Regions from separate parts of the Homo sapiens genome. Here region 2 is linked to region 1. A link means that fine-mapping ties the variant in region 1 to the expression of a gene that starts in the linked region. Tissue or cell type: whole blood. Region 1 holds a variant in brackets; the other region holds the start of a gene. All regions are shown on one strand. Distances are from middle to middle.

Evidence for each region. PIP is the estimated chance that this variant, and not a neighbour inherited with it, causes the effect.
Region 2: it holds the start of LRRFIP1, and the variant in region 1 is fine-mapped to the expression of LRRFIP1 in whole blood (TOPMed, PIP above 0.99).

What each region holds. Positions count from the first base shown.
Region 1 is chr2:237,691,377-237,699,479 of GRCh38, reverse strand. All of the region lies in intron 1 of LRRFIP1 (LRR binding FLII interacting protein 1), which reads right to left. LOC124906128 (a long non-coding RNA gene) reads left to right here and starts at 7,684. Exons shown (of 2, transcript XR_007088145.1): 1 at 7,684-8,103. RefSeq lists silencers at 1,074-1,123, 6,962-7,501, 7,512-8,091 and enhancers at 2,187-2,396, 4,719-4,898, 7,525-8,103. The variant T/C (reference allele first, on the strand shown) is at 4,295.
Region 2 is chr2:237,624,125-237,632,227 of GRCh38, reverse strand. It overlaps LRRFIP1 (LRR binding FLII interacting protein 1), which reads right to left and starts at 4,641. Exons shown (of 24, transcript NM_001137550.2): 1 at 4,488-4,641. The coding sequence starts at 4,583. RefSeq lists enhancers at 171-732, 735-1,234.

The DNA.
Region 1 (8,103 bases):
TCAGGAGGCTGAGGCAGGAGAATCACTTGAACCCGGGAGGCGGAGGTTGTAGTGAGCCGAGATCTCACCATTGCACTCCAGCCTGGGCGACAGAGCGAAATTCCATCTCAAAAAAAAAGAAAAAAAAAAAAAAGAAAAGAAAAACCACTATTTTTAATTTTTGGATTTACAAACTGATTGCAACTTACATATAAACTCAAAATATGTTTTACACAGTTCAAATATACATGAACTATTCCAGGAATGCAATCGACATGGAAATTGAAGGAAGATGATGATACTTGGCTTTGTTCAGAACTTTCCTGAGAGTTAGTCAACTTTGTAGAATGTCACGTCATAGACAGCAACATGAGGGGTGGTGTGTGGGTCTCAGTGCAACACACCTGTGTCAGCCTCCCTGTGACGCCAGGCACAGGTGTGTGCAGGTCTCATCACTGCATTCAACTGCTGGTGTACTTGGTCTTGAGTATTTCTATATCAAAATTCTTATTATGTTACTATAAACTACCTGTATTTTATTTTTTAAGGAAATGTTATATTGACTCGAAATTATGTGCGCTGGTTGACTTTCTCACCTATGCATTTCATTTCAGGCTAGTAAGGAAGTTAAGGAACTTGTAAAAAGACAGGGTTGAGAACCACAGCTTCAGAACTCCAGTGTGGATCTCTCGTCTCTCCATCACACTGTATGAACCAGCCCCGGCACAATTCAGAGCACAGGTCTGGGTGCCTGGTGCTCAGGCCATCATGAAGATTTGGATGGCATAAAGTTAGAGATCAAAGCCTAACTGATTACTTAAAACACTATGTTTCCATCAAAATTAACTCAGACAAATTATGGAGTAGACTGAAATTACCATGAAAGTTTACGGTAAGACGGCCACCTTCAAAGAAGGCTTTAGCTTACAAGGCTGCTCCTGGCCGGGCCCACAGGCCCCAGGAGCCAGCACACTGTCCTCTGCACTCGGGGGACCTGGCAGACAAGTCCAAGAAATGCTGGGTGCCGACTGCTTCTCTCAGCTATGGCTGCACTGTTCTCAGTAAAGGTCTGAGTTTATGCAGGTGCAGACTGTCAAGAAAGGAGTCTGAAGACCCAGCCACAGCCTCCAGCTTGGGCTCTGTCACCTACAGTTATGTGAGCCTGGATAAGTTACTCGGTTTTTGAACCCCAGCCCTCATTAAAGAAGTAGGAGGGGACGTAATCTTTAAGAGCTTCCTTCCCCTCTGAAATTCTTTGGGTTCATGCCAGAGGTGAATTATTTGTACACTGAGATTGTCCACAGACTGTGTCTGTTTTGCTACTGGAAATCTCCAGGCTTTGCTTTTCAGAATAATAAGCTTCTTTAAAGTCCTTCGCATCCTAAAATAGCAAACGTATTAATCGGGAACAAAATGATTGATGTTACTTTATTGATGACTCACACATTGACCTATTCAAACCTCACAACACAATCTTGGGCTTAGCAGCTACTCCCACTGGCGCTAAGAAATAAATACGCTATACAGTATCTTCCATGCAAGTGAACTTCTACTCTTGCTGTTAATACATTTCTTGCTTTTCCTGAGATGAATGAATCTTCATATTTCCTTCAATTGCCTCAACATGATGGAAATACAAGAACCATGACTACCACTAACAGAGACGTGCGGGACTGAGAGGCGAGGGCGGCTGGGCCTCCCCTGTGCCGTTTCCTCTCCAGGTGACAGGTTTCCCTCCAGGCAGCACGTCTGGGCTCCACTCCCTTCACCTTTGCCTGCTCTGCTCAAGACTGTCCTACAAACCCCAGACCTCTAGGGTTTCACAAAAACATTTAAATTGTTTCCTCTGAGAAGAAGGCTGAAAGCTCCACCAGCACCAGGGCAGCACACAGCAACTGACAATCTTTCCTATATTCAGTGGATATTCCCTGGAACCAGCTATAAAAGAAACAGCAGCTGTCATGTTTATCCTCCATGAACTTATCTACTTGGATGAGGTAGGGGAGGAGTTACATCATACCCAGAAAAATAAAAAGGCTTAAATCACAGCAGCTCTCAGGTGTATGCCGACATAAGCAGTAGTTAACATTTTAGCATGGTACAAAAATAGCAAAACAAGTTTCACAGCTATTTCATTTCTACCATTATTTTCCTTATGTAGAAAAGTAAAGCTCATTGGGCCGGGTGTGGTGGCTCATGCCTGTAATCCCAGCACTTTGGGAGGCCGAGATGGGAGGATCACTTGAGGTCAGGAGTTTGAGACCACCCCGGCCAATGTGGTGAAACCCCATCTCTACTAAAAATACAAAAATTAGCCGGGTGAGGTGGCAGGCACCTGTAGTCCCAGCTGCTTCAGAGGTCTGAGGCAGGAGAATCGGTTGCACCTGGGAAACGGAGGTTGCAGTGAGCTGAGATTGTGCCATTGCATTCCAGCCTGGGCAATCAAGCACGACTGTCTCAATAAAAAAAAAGAAGGAAAGTAAGTTCGTTCTTTGAATGTTCTCTTCTGTCTGGAAATTACCAGGCAGAGAACAGAAAAGTTTGACAGAGTGAAGACTTCCCAGTATGCATTCAAGACAAGGACTTCTGTCCTAAGAGGCAGCTTTGGTAAAAAGAAATCCTTCAGCCCCAATACTGGGGTATGAGACAGCAGGGCTGCCAAGAAAAGCTGACAACAGCGACAAAAGCAGCAGCAGCAGCCGTGGCAGCCACAGCTATATCTTGCACATTTACTACCTGCCAGCCCCTGCCTGCAGCATTGCATACAGTGGTGACAGTTATCAGTACCAGTTCCGAGTCAGCAGGCCTGGGTCTGAACTGGCTCCACTGCTGACTAGCTGTGAGGGCTTGGAAAGTCCCTGACCTTTCTGAGCCTCAGTTTCCTCTTTATCTGAAAAACTGAGAGAAAACGATCTGCTCCCCATGAGGTTACAGCAAGGGTTAGAGAAGACCTTCACATAAAACACCAGGTGGGCGCAGCAGGGGTTTGGTAAATATTAGCTACTTTCACTACTTAGTGTCTTCTTTGACAGCTACTGACCTAAGAGTATAAATCCGGTTCAGAGAAGTTTAGAAGCACGATGAGAAGACAAGCATGCTAAGGCACCCACCTAGCAGAGAAGCAGGAAAAACTGGGGAAACTTCAGAGGAGGGGGACAGAGGTTCTCAACCCACAGGGAAAGCCCACTCCTTTCCCTAGGAAAATCACACAGCCACGTGCCACATACAGTAAAAAAGACAGAAGGATCACAGGTGGCGTTGCTTTGATCATCTTCATTACACAAATAAATGAAACATTTTGGTTAAAATTAAGAGTAAATCTTCATTATAGTGATTTAAGATAAATTACTTCTCTACTACAAAGTAGTTATACTTTAGATTCAAGGGAAAACTACTTACCTAGTTTTAAAGTTGTAAAGTTACAATCCCAAGGAGAAACCACTGGAAACACTGGCCCTTTCCAAAATGAATGAATGAGTCTCGGAATACATATAATTTCTGTTGCCAGGTGTGTGTGTGTTTTGGTTTATTGTTTTGGAATCTGGCCTGGGGCAGGGGGATTATACTACTGGTCTATAATCAAATACATGGCAATTTTGAATGATTAAATCTTGCATGTAGTCAAAATATTTAATTTGGGAGAAAGAAACGAATTTACTTAATTTTATCTAGGTAGTCTGAATAATAAAAGTTCTAGTAAGTCCATTCCATGAAAACAAGCTTCTTTATTTAAAAAAAAAAAACAAAAAACAAATTTGGGCGGCCTCCAGTAATAACAGTGAGGTAATAAAAATCCTCTTCTCCTGTCCCATGTCTAACACGTAGTGAGATGTAATGGACTTACTGATTGGTGAAGAGGTTGGTAATCTAAACATTATGGCCTCTGGGGCTTCAAGATCACTCCTTTAAATACGAGCAGATATTCTGGAAGCACTGGCATATGAGTAACCAGTCATAAACAATTCCTTTGCTGAGTCACACAGCCTGATTTTTCGGGGATAAGAAGTTCCTCTTGGACATTGCCTTTTGAGGACCAAACATGCTGCACCAACATTTAGTCTCACAATTCTGTAGGGATTGGATAAGAATCTCACTATAATCAGGTAACTCTCCAATCAACTTCGCTGAAACACCGTTCTGCAACTATAAATAACTTGATTTCCTGTGCTCAGCATAAGTGGCAGTTGAGACTGCAGGGTTTTTTGAAATTTGCTAAGGAGGCTTCCGCTGTGGGATATTAACTCAGGCTGAACAGAAACTGACTCTTAAAGAAAAAGGGAAATTTAGTCTCCATCTTTGCCCCAGTAGGACACTC[T/C]CAATACTACTAGAAAAGACCTACCTTACTATATTTATGTCTTACCTGCCCGGGGAAATGACATGCCTAAAACACACACCATATGATTCCACGCTCCACCATCTCAGACTGAGCTAGAGCAGGGCCAGCCCGCCTCGTGCCAACTGATTCATCCCCATATTGGTCAAGACTCCACTCTCCCACACCTGGGGACCCTGGCCCAGGTACCTATAATGAGATGGGACTTGGGAGACTGTGTGTCCACGCTCTCCCCTAACAGCCCTTTCTTGGGACAGTGCTGGTCATTTAGAAGGGCTGAATGCTAATCAGTATGTGGAAAGAGAGCGGGGTGACACAAGCCATCGCAAACACAGGGAAGTTACAAAAGCTGCAGAAATGCACAGTGTCTCCACTGTCCGCATCGGACCCTCTCCTACAGCTCCAGGGCTGGTGCCCACTTGCTGAAGAAGCCCAGGCTCCCACTCAGATCCTGCTTTTGTCTTCTAGTTGAGGTGGAGCTTGCCAAATCTACTTCCTCTGACCAACCCGGCTCTCCTCTGCATGGGTGCGGCCCCCAGTCCCTCCTTTCCGCAGGAGACCCATCCCTGAACCCACGGACACAATGCAGAGCAAGAACTGGCACAAACCAGTGTGAAACACCCACAACCACTTTCCTGTGCCTATACCCAGCCCATGGCCCAGGGCAGCCGCTGGGTGACGCCCTACCCCCCACCCATGATGACCCCCAATTCCCATCACCACTCAGCACATTTCCTTCCCTACCTGAACATTAGCCTCTTAACAGGAACTGCATTTTGCTTTTGTTCACCATGTCTCACTCTGATACAGTTTTTGCTACCATTTACCAAGAAAAGCTCCTACAGGTTCACAACTTCTCTCTGAAAACCCTTGGGGCCATGATTCAGAATTCAGCATTTTTGGACATTAGAAACGTAGTAAGATGCATACACCATATATTCTGGTACAACCCAGAGTAGCAGCCCTTAATCAAAGACATCAACAAGACTGCAGAGAAACGTAAGAAAATTCACACTCAGAGGGATCAGTGAAGACCAAAACTAGCCCCCCATTGGACAGGGCAAGTCTCACTGCCAAAATTCTGCCACAAACTTATAAAAACAAAACAAAACACAAACCTTCCGGTCTTCAAAGCTTATTGGGTTCTGGAACTGGGGGTGAGGGACAGTGGGCCTGGGCTGATCACATAACTACTCAGTTGGACACAGTCCAGACTTTCCTCTCCCTTCCTCCCGGCAGCATCTCGAAGTCATCTGAACCCAGACCCGCCCAGGAGGCTCCCAGCCTTAAGTAATAGACCCTGTAGCCAGTGCCTTAGCTGCTCCAGGTGTGCCTCTACCTACTCCTCTGATTAGCCTGTCCCTAGTTTCCTCACATCCTGTTCTCAATGTTTACTCTTCCCTTCTCCAAGGACTCTAAGTCCAGCAGGCAGCTCTTCACCTCCATCCTCCTCCTGCCATCTATGGTGTCCCAGGCTGCTCCTCAGAACACTGGCACCGCTCAACCACATTCCCACCCTTCCTTCTTTCAAGAACCCTTCCCTGATGGTGATTCAAGGGTCTCTCTTCCCAGGCCCCTAGGAACTAATTAGTTGAAGGGGTAAAAACCGGCTCCAGAGGGCTGGCCCACTGCCAGAGTTTTAAACGAAGTCACAGAAAAACCACACTAAAATGGACATTTAAAAAACAGCAACCATCTGACAAGCAAAGAACTGGCTTTTCAGTATGAGTTCATCAGACTCTACTTCTACACCTCTCTCTGGCATTTCCTAATAAGCTCTCCCAAGGTCAAGGCAGTCTGATTCATCTTAAATCTTACACACACACCCAGTAGATGATTAATTTCTACCTGATGAAAGAGTGATTGTTTGGGGCTCATACTTTTACCAAGATCCCACGAACACCTGATTAAGTGGAAAGCTAGGGTTTTATATTTCTTTTCCAAAGTGCACCCTTTCACTTTTATTCCCATTCATGTTCAACCACAAGCTGCATGAAAATGTGTATTTGCAAACCCTCTCCGCCTCATCCCCTGCCCAATTTTAATGCCAAACTACAGCCGTAGCCCCACGACTGCATATTGAGCTGGACAACGGCAAAATCCTAGAGGCAGGATCCTGTCCGCGCTGGGCGGACCCGGGAGACTAGCCAAAGTGGATTTGGCGTCTGGAGTCCTCGGCGGAGGTGGTCCCCAGGTGCTGAGCGGGTTGAGTGCTCCAAAGCACCCCAGCCGCTCCCCGGTGGTTCCAACAGCGGGTGAGGGCACCGGCTCTGGCCACCCGGTCCTTGATGCTGTATTTTGTAAAATAGCAAACTAGCAGCTCCCTGTGACTCCAGGCCAGGCGCAGACCTGGTCAGAGCCTGTCTGCAGCCCATCACCTCGGGCGGGGAGAGACCATGTGCCTTTTCGTCCTTGGAGGTGGCGTCCCACAATAAAGCGTGCTTCCTAGCGCATGAGGGACGCCGCTCGCCGGGCCACTCACGGACCCGCGCCCACTGCGCCCGCTCCCACCGCGCTGGGGTCCCGCCAGAGCCCACCCCACGCCTCCCGGGCACCTGCGCCTGCCATTGACCTCGGAACGAGCTGGAAGCCCCTGAAACCCCGCCGCAGTCACGAAAGAAAGTTTCGGAAGCGCTTTCCTCTTACCAGCTTCTGCGCTTCCGGGCTCAAACAGTCGATCTCCCGGCTTTGAGCGGCCGCGGGGCTGGTCATCCTGCCGGGCTCGGCCCGCTCCACCCGGCGGGAAATGCTCGGGGACCGCGCCGGGAGCCCCTCGCGGGCCGGGCCAGGGGGCGCGCGCTCTGTCCGCGGAGACGGAGCCACTCGCCGCTAAGTGAACGCTCGCGCTTCCGGGGCCAGGAGCCAGCCCGCCGGGGAGCGGCTCGCGGCGCTGGGCTCGGGCGCGGCCGACAGGGGCGGGGCGCAGGTGGCCGCGGGCTGAGTCGGGCTCGGGGTGGAAGGGCGCCGGGGAAGCGGGACTCGGGCGCCTCCGCCCGTCCCACGGCCCGCCCCGCCCCCCACGCAGTTCCGCCTCGGAGGGGCCCTCCCGGCTACGCCCCGCCCCGTCCCCGCCCCATGACTCGCCCCACCGCCCCCGCCCCATGACCCGCCTTCCCCGCCCCCCTGCGCCGCTCCGCCTCGGAGGGTCCCTCCCGGTTACGCCCCTTTCCCCACCCCCACCGGCTCCGCCCCACCCAGGCCCCGCCCCACGGCCTGTCCCGCCCTTCCGCGCTCCCTTAACGCGAGCCCCGCCCCGCCCCCCGCGCTCCGTCTCGGAAGGATCTTCCTGGTCCTGCCCCGCCCCTCCCGGGCTGTCCATCACCACCCCTCCGGCCCCCGCCGGAAAGAGGACCTGGAGGAAAAGACCCCTCAGGCTCCGGCCGCAGCTCCACCCGCAGGGGCCGTGGGAAGCGGGCGCTCCGGGGAGGATGCCGCGCCCAGTAGGGGTCGACCCGAAGAGGGGGTCCCCTCCGGGGGGGGACCTGCCCGGGGCTGGGCGAGGGTATGAGTTCCCGGCTCCCCCACATCCATCACCCTCAGGCCACGCTGAGCTTCCTGGACGCGGAAGCCTAGGCCCCAGCACCGCTGCACCTGCCGGCCGGGCACCCCACTAACGCGGCATCCCGAGAAGGGCCGACTTCCAGGACGACGCAGCTGCGTGCACACAGCCCCCCTTGGCCCGGTGCGGCGGCCCGCAGGGGAGAACGAGCTTGCAGGGTGCGGGTGCGGGCCGCTGGGGCCGATCTGGCGTCGCAGAACCCGGGGTCCACACCGTCCAGGCTGCGGCCGCG
Region 2 (8,103 bases), 67 kb after region 1:
CAACTGGAGTCCTTGGGGGCTGTGTGACCCCTTCTCCACAACTGGACTCCTTGGGGGCAGTGTGACCCCTTCTCCACAACTGGACTCCTTGGGGGCAGTGCGACCCCTTCTCCGCAACTGGACTCCTGTGTGGCCGTGGCTCAAGTGAAAGGCGGTGGCTGTGAGGCCTGAACCAACAGCACCCGCAGGCCCACGAGTCAACTTGGGGCCGGTGAAGCAGCCGGGTGGGGCAGCAGTGCCCCTGCCATGGATCAGGGCCCGAGGCCGCAGGCCACAGAGGGGCCAGCTTGGAGAGGAGGCTGCAGAAACAGTTATGGGGGGAGGGCCTCCGTCCTGCTGGGTGAGGAAGGGGTACCTATGGCACCACCAGGGGATAATAAGCTCACCGCACTGTCTCAAGGCCCCACGGTGAGTTCCTAATGCAGCCTGCGCAAATGACTGTTCCTGTTGGGAAAAACATTCTTCATTTGAGAGCAATACTTTGAATTGCATGGTGAGACCAGTATCGCTTTACTCAGCTGCAGAGTGCTGAATGAGAAGTTTGGGATGCTACCAAAATGCACCAGTAGAATGTGAAATGCGGTAGGAGAGGAAAATCTATCTGCGTTGGAAACACCCCTCCCCAGAAGTGGGAGGCGCAGCTCATGCCTTTGGTGCTAATGAGCTTCTGCAAGTGCGTACTAAACCTTTCTCCTGATAACATCCCGCCTGAATTCCACTGCAACAAGAGAGTGAGAAATAATTGACTTGCGATAATACAGCATTTGCAAATAACTCCCTTTACTATACACGCTTGCCTAGAGTTTAAACCATCACATGGAAGCAGGACACCGGCTGCAGAAGCAGAAATGCACCCTCCAAAGGCTGCCCCCACCACGAGTCCTGCTTCTACCCAGAAGAGTGCAAAGCCCTGCCTGCACAGGGCAGCCTAGCTCTTCCCCTCGCTCCAGCGAACTGGAACCCACGTCCCTGCCAGGTGACTCAGGCTTCCCAATGACCTCAGCCCAGAATTTTCCACTTACTCTCCAGAAGGCATGTTCTTGGGTGCCAGGCCCAAGTGGCAGCCCACTCCCTCCCACTTCCTTGAAGCCTCCCCAGTTTCCATTCAGGCCCCCACCTTCCCAAGTGTTTCAGGGAGGCCGGCTCTCCCCAGTCCCAGGATGAGTCTGACAGGTCACAGGGTAGACCCACCCCCCTTTGCCACAGGCACTGAGCCCCTAAGTCCATGGTCCTTGTCAAAGAGCTTGGTGCAGGAGTGGCCAGACAGACTCATGAAAGTTTACCAGGGAGATACTGCTAGCTCTCTGGAGAGAGCCACCAGAAGAGACGGTGTGTGGGCTCCACAGTGGCAGCCCGGGAAAGCCAAGGCCAGCTGGCCTCCATGAAGCAAGTCAGCCTGAGGATGAGGCCACCCACAGAGGATGGCCCAGCCCAACCAGCTGCGCAGGTGCTGTGGGAAAAAGAGGCCGGAGCCACTGGTGAGGCTGGCGGGGAATCCTGCCCTGCCTCCGGGCTTGCTGTGCTCCAGCCAATATACTTCCCCTTGTCAATGTCAGTCCAGTCAGGGTTTCTGTCCCAGCAGCCAAAGCATCTTGACTGGTACATACAGCCTTCAAGAACTCAAAATGCCACTTCCTCCAGGAAGCCACTTCTGAGACCACTGGCCGGCTGTGATTCTCTCTCATGTCCAAACCTTCAGAACACTGTCTACGCCCTTTTTATATCAGATCCCTTCCTGTCTTCGGTTAGCATTATTGATCTACAGGTGTCAACCCCTTTCTGACCCAACTCCTGGAGGGCAGGCAGGTCCTCGCCGGGTTCCTCCCTGACTCTCCAGTCTCCCCAGGACAGGAATTTGGATACCATGGCTTGTATCTGTTGAGTCAATGAGTGAATAAGAAAGTACTGAACCCAAGACGATTTTGTTGATTTCTATAAGAACCCTGATGAATTCAAGGAGTAGATATTTGCCATTTGAATAGTGATTTTCATTTTCACAGTTGAGAAATAGAAGTTAATTTGTACTAAAACATAAGATGTCACACCTGCTCCCTCCAACCCTATCAATCTGTGCTACTCAGCACTAGTAACAGCTGCACCTACGGCTGGGTTTTACCGGGAGGGGCGTGTAAGAAGCTCTCATATTTACCCACCGCCTAGTTACATACTTTACATTGCTACCCACTTTCTTTAATTCTGACAGCCAGGGGAGGTTTCTTCTTCTCCATTTTAGAGACGAGAAAACAGAGGCCCAGAGAAGAGTGAGTAACTCACCTTCCTAGGATGGCACAGCTGGCTAAGAACTATGTCATTTGAAAGCCCAGCTCTGACTCACAAGTCTATCTCTGTAACTCCAACTGCATCTCCCTCGGTGGGAGGGAGGACCTCAGGGCTCTCAACCCAAGGAGTGTTCCCTTGCCTTCCTTTTCAATCTATTTTATAAAAACCAGCAGATAGGCTGGGCGCAGTGGCTTACGCCTGTAATCCCAGCACTTTGAGAGGCCAAGGCGGGAAGATCACTTGAGGCCAGGAGTTTGAGACCAGCCTGGCCAACACGGTGAAACCCCGTCTCTATTAAAAATACAAAAATTAGCCGGGTGTGGTGGTGCGTGCCTGTAATCCCAGCTACTGGTGAGGCTGAGGCAGGAGGATCTCTTGAGCCTGGGAGGTGGAGGTTGCAGTGAGCCGAGATCATACCACTGTACTCCAGCCTGGGCAACAGAGTGAGACTGTGTTAAAAAAAAAAAAAAAAAAAAAAAAGAAGAAAGAAACACCAGTGGATAAAAGGCAAACTCTGGAAATTTTCATTCTTCTCATTCTTCTGCCCCATAACCACTGACATCAAGACAAGGCTTGCGATTCACTGGCCACCTCTGGCCCTTGCAGGGAACACTTGTAAGGCACTGTGGTCAAATGCATACATAAGTGACTGTCTTCACAGGAGGGAGTTATACTCAAGCTACTATATTTAGCAAATGTCTATATTTAGCCAAAGGTCCTTTAAATGCCTTGTACTTCTTTTGTTTATTAATTAATGTAACAGACATAGACAAACACCTAGTATGTGCCTGGCTCTGTGCTGAGCTCTTGGGATACAAAAGTAAGATATTTCCTGTCTGGGTGTCACCTTCTACAGGTGGACAAATAATGATAAGGTATCCTGACTGCCATGCCAGGCGCGGGCATGCCATGGAGGGCCGTGGAGCCAGGGAGACTTAGGCCTGGTGCGATGTGAGAGGGCTGAGTCTGGAAGGTCTCCTGGAGGTCACAGTGGGCTTCCAGGAATGAATAAGGGTTTGCCTGGAAAGCCCTTTTCTGTATCATACAGAGAAAAACAGAAGTCTTTATTCACTCAGTAGTCAACAAATACTGAGTGACTGCCACATGTCCGTAAGAGCAAAATCAGGTATTTACAACTACAAACACCTAAGGATTGGTTACAGAGTAGATCCCCCAGAATATCTGACGGATACAGCCAGACACCACAGTCCAAATGGCTTGGAGGTGTTTCCTGTGGGAAGAATCACATGTGGAAAAGCCAACACGGAAAAGAACCTGTAAGGCGGGTTACAAGGCAGAGACTTTCTTTGCATTCATACACCCACCTGGCACACAGTTCAAATGGTACAAAGGGAACACAGTCAAAAATTAAGCTTCCTTTGTCCCCCTGGGGCCGCAACCTATTGGCTCCCCTTTTCCCAAGCTGCTGCTCTCTGTCCCTGTACGGCTTTCTGGATGTCATGTACATTCTTTAGCCTTAAGGTAGAATCCTTGCGGAAGGAAAAAAAAAAAGGCATTTGTACAAATACCCATTCTAGTGCGCCTTCAATTTGTCACAGGTAAAGTTCATCACCAAACATGATCTTAGTTACAATAAACTCTGTCCAGGAAACTTTAATGAAGACGTTTCAGTGTGCCTGGACCCGTTTCCAGGCTCAGTCCTGAAAGAAAAATCACAGTGATCCCCAAGTTCATCTCTGAGCTGCACCTTGAGTGACATCGATGGATGGATGACAAATGGTCACCTGAGCGACTCGGCCATTTCAGCAGGGCCATGTGGCCTCCGGCGACCGTCCACTGCCTCCAGGTCGGGCCTAAGCCCCCGCCTCCTCCCATGCCGCACAACAAAGCGGGGCGCTCGCCCCCACCCGGCCAGCCCGGGCCACCTCGCGCGCTGGCGGCGCCCGGCTCCTCTCCCGAGGGCGCAGCGGCCGACGGTGGCCGGGGTGGGGGAGGGCGCGCAGCGTCGCGGGCTGGGCCCGGGGCTGGAGAACGGGTGCGGGGTCCGCAGGCCTCGGAGATCGGGGCCGGGGCGCAGCGCCTGGGGATCAGCGCCCCGGCGCGCGCCTGCCCGGCCCACCCGCCTGGAGCCGGACGCGCAGTGGCACAGACGCACAGCGGGACAGACGGACGCCGGAGAGACCCTGACAGCCGTCCGGCCCCCGCGCCCGCCCGGCGCCCCCCGGCTGCCCTCCCGGAGCGCTCACCTCCCGCGCGATCTGGTTGAGCGCGTCGTCCTCCGCCGTGAGCCGCTCCCGGTTGGGGAGCCGCTTGCGCCCCGATCCCTGGGTGCCCATGTCCATCGACCGCGTCGCCCGCAGCTGCCGCGGGGCCCGTTGCTCCAGCCGCTCGCGCCGCCCCGGCCCGGCCCCGGCCCCGGCCCCTCCCTCCGCCGCGGCGTCATGGCGTCAGCGGGCGCTGGGCCGGGGACGCGGGGACGCGGGGGGACGGGGGCCGCGGGGACCCGGGGGAAGCCAGAGCCGGAGGTCCGCAGCGCGGGCCAGGGACTGCAGGGGCCAGGGACGGCGGGGCGGGGGACGGGGGCGGGGGGCGGAGACGCCAGGTGTCAGGGACGATGGGGGTCCGATACCACGGGGACGCTGCGGATGCCCAGGGCCGGGCACGCGGGACCTGAGGGACCGGGAGCCCCGGAGGGTGGACTTTGCGGGGACTGTTTGGCGGGCCGGTAATCGCGGAGCGACGCGCGCCAGGGCGGTGGGCACCGGTTGAGTGGGGACCTGAGCGGAGAGCGGGGGGGTAGGAAGGCTTTCAGAGGCCTGAGTTGCCTTGAGGGGTTTGCACGGAGGGGTGAGCACAGGATTTGGTTCAGCCTGGCGCTCCCCATTCCGCGGTGAGTCGGGGTGGAAGTCCCTCGCCGGGGTGAGAGCTAGGCTCTGGGGTCAGGCCGAGAGGTGCTCGGATCCGCCCGCCACCGCCGCTCCTGTGACCTTGGCCAGCCTCCTGGGCGCCGGCTTCACAGCGGCATGGTGTGGATGTGTGCGTTTCTGTCTTTACACGCGTGTTCTCCGTGCTAGCATCCATCCTTCTCCCCGCTGTCTGCCCCCTGAGATCAAGGACTTGTCACTTCTCTGGTGGGTCCCCAGCCTCTAGGATCGGGGCAGGTGCGTCGCAGCTCTCTCCTAGTTGTTGAAAAAGTAATGAACTTACCTGTGCTCTCTGAAGCTCACAGTCTATGCTCCAGAGGTGGATTTAAAAGTAAAGCAAATCGGAGGATTAGGTAGGGGTTAAAAGCCCCTGCCTAGGGCACGGCAGGAGCACCGGGTGGGAAAGTTACTGGTGTGTTTGGGGTATGGGGAGAACTTCAGTGTGGCTGGACCTGGGGAAGGATGGGAGGGAGGGTAGTGATGGTAGAGGAGAGGAGGCTGTACTGAAGTCACCTGTGATTTTTTTCCCCCAGTGATAAGGACAGTTAACATTTCGGTGTATTTCCCACCAAGTGGTGTGACCAGATTGCTTTGGATTCTTAAGGAGGTGGCCTGGAAGCTGTATGAAGGTGGGAAGAGGAAGAGGGCCCTTCCACCCACAGTGGCAGGGAAAGCTGTTGGAGGTTTCATTGCAGGGAAAAGACAGCGAGTCCAGTGACATGGGAGGGAGGGCAGATCCAGGTGACATTGCTCTGGGTGCCTGAGCTGACGCAGGTGGGTTGGCAGGGCTGACTGTGGCATTGTTCATGACTGAACTCCGGGAGCAGAAACTGCACCTGCACATTGTAGGCACTAAGGAAATAGGTGTTGACTGAATCTTCCAGGCCATATTTACATTACTTCAGAGGCCATACTCCTTAAGTGACATAGTCCTCCTTGGGGGAAACCTTGAGCCGTGGCCACTTGCACTGCCTTGGTCTTGCTGGTGGCTGCTCACTGTTTCCCAGCCCCTGGGGCACTGTGGGGACTGTGCGTCTTTGCCGAGGCTGGTCCCCATGAGTTCACTCATTCCTGCACCCACACCTGCTGCCTGCCAGCTGCTGAGCTGGAGGCTGGGGCATAGCTGTCCGAGAGGCAGACACGGCTGCTGCCTCTCAGGGCTGACTTGAGATGCCTGGAGCTCCTTAACTAAAGCCATATCCAAGTTCCAACGTCTCCTTTCTAAAAGAAGTCTCCCTTTGCTCCCTGTCCTTCATTGGAACTTTGAGCCACTTTTTGCTAACACCTAAATCCTCCATCCTGATGTGTTGAGGCCAGGAGGGCAGGCGCTGACCCCATCTTCCTCATCTTTAAGCCTTCACCAGGGACTGGCTGTGCCAGTTGCTTAGTGGAGTGCAGTGGTTGAACTTGTGGAACAGAGTTCAGTTCCCAACCCTCCTCCCCACTTTCCCTGTTGGATTGTTGTCCAGAGACAGGAGATTCACTGCCGTGGGGACTGGCCAGAGGTGTGTCTGAACAGCTCCCGCTGGTAGACAGTGTTCTCGGACACTGTGGTGAATTCAGCTTCCTGCCCCTCCCCCATCATCTGTCCACTTCCAGAAAAGAGCCGCCTTTCAGAAATCATCAGAAACAACATTGCTGGGTCCTCCCATGACCCCATGACATAACAACTTCCTGGCTACAGTCCTCTTCCCCTGGCGATGTGCTCTCAGAGTGGACCGGTTCTCACTTCAGAGTCAGTTTCCGCCTCTAAATGGAAATACGGGTGCCCACTGTCTTAGTTCCTTTGTGCTGCTGTAACAGAACGCCTTAGACAGGGTCATTTATAAAACCACGGAAATGTATTGTTCACAGCTGTGGAGGCTGGGAAGTCCAGCATCAAGCCTCCAGCAGAATCAGTGTCTGGTTGAGGCCCATTCCTCACAGATGGTGCCTTCTGTGTGTCATCTCATGGTGGAAGACGGGCTCCCTCCAGGCTTTTGTGTAAGGGCACTCATCGCGTTCATGAGGTCTCTGCTTCAGGACCTGGTCACCTGCAGGCCCCACCTTGCATTGAGGGTTAGGTTTTGACATATGAATGGGGGGGCCACCGCCATCCAGACCATGGCCTCTACCTTGTCAGGGTAGGGACAGTATTCTAGGCAAGAGCCCTTCCAGGGCTTCACACACAGGCAATCGATCAATCATCCTTACAGCTCCTGTCCTCAAAGGCCCAGGTCTGGAATGAATGGTGAACAGCAGTTCCTGTCTGGGCAGAGGGGAGCTAGACAGAGGTATCAGGCAGCTTGGTGGGTCTTCTCCGTGCTTGGGGTGCCTCCTGGAGGAAGATAAAGACCTGCAAGACTCCATCATGCTGATCCATGGGTTCACCGAAAAATTGTGGCTTTTCCTCCACCCTTGACCGTCGGCCCTCCCTGCGTGGAAGTGCATGAGCCTGTTTCCACTGAGAAGACTGGCCTCTGCCACCAGCACTACTGACCCCTCCCATCTAGCCCTTTTCCTATTCCAGATGGTGACACTACCCACCAGGGCTTACTTCAGAGCAGGAAATTGAGAAACTATATCACAGATCTGATGTCCAGGGCCAGAGAATTAACATGTTCATCTCCAAGCCTGGTACCAAGTCCCTTCACAAAAATACAGATGCCACCTTCAGGAAGCCTCCACGAGAAAGTGGAGGCAGCCAGGGAAGCCTTGGCAAGGGAAACCACACAGCGGCGCCGTCCCCAGCGCAAGTTTGCCTTGGTTCAGGAGCTCAGTGGGCAAGCCCTGGGGGCTGGCTGGGAAAGGAAGTTGATGAGCAGCTACGGAGGGGCGTCCAGTCTGCATGAGGACTCAGAGCTTCTCAGGCAGAGAGCCATCTGAGCCATCATGTGGGCCATAACGTGACTCACTCTGGGTCCATTGAGAGCATCATCCGCGTGGGCCTACCTCAAAC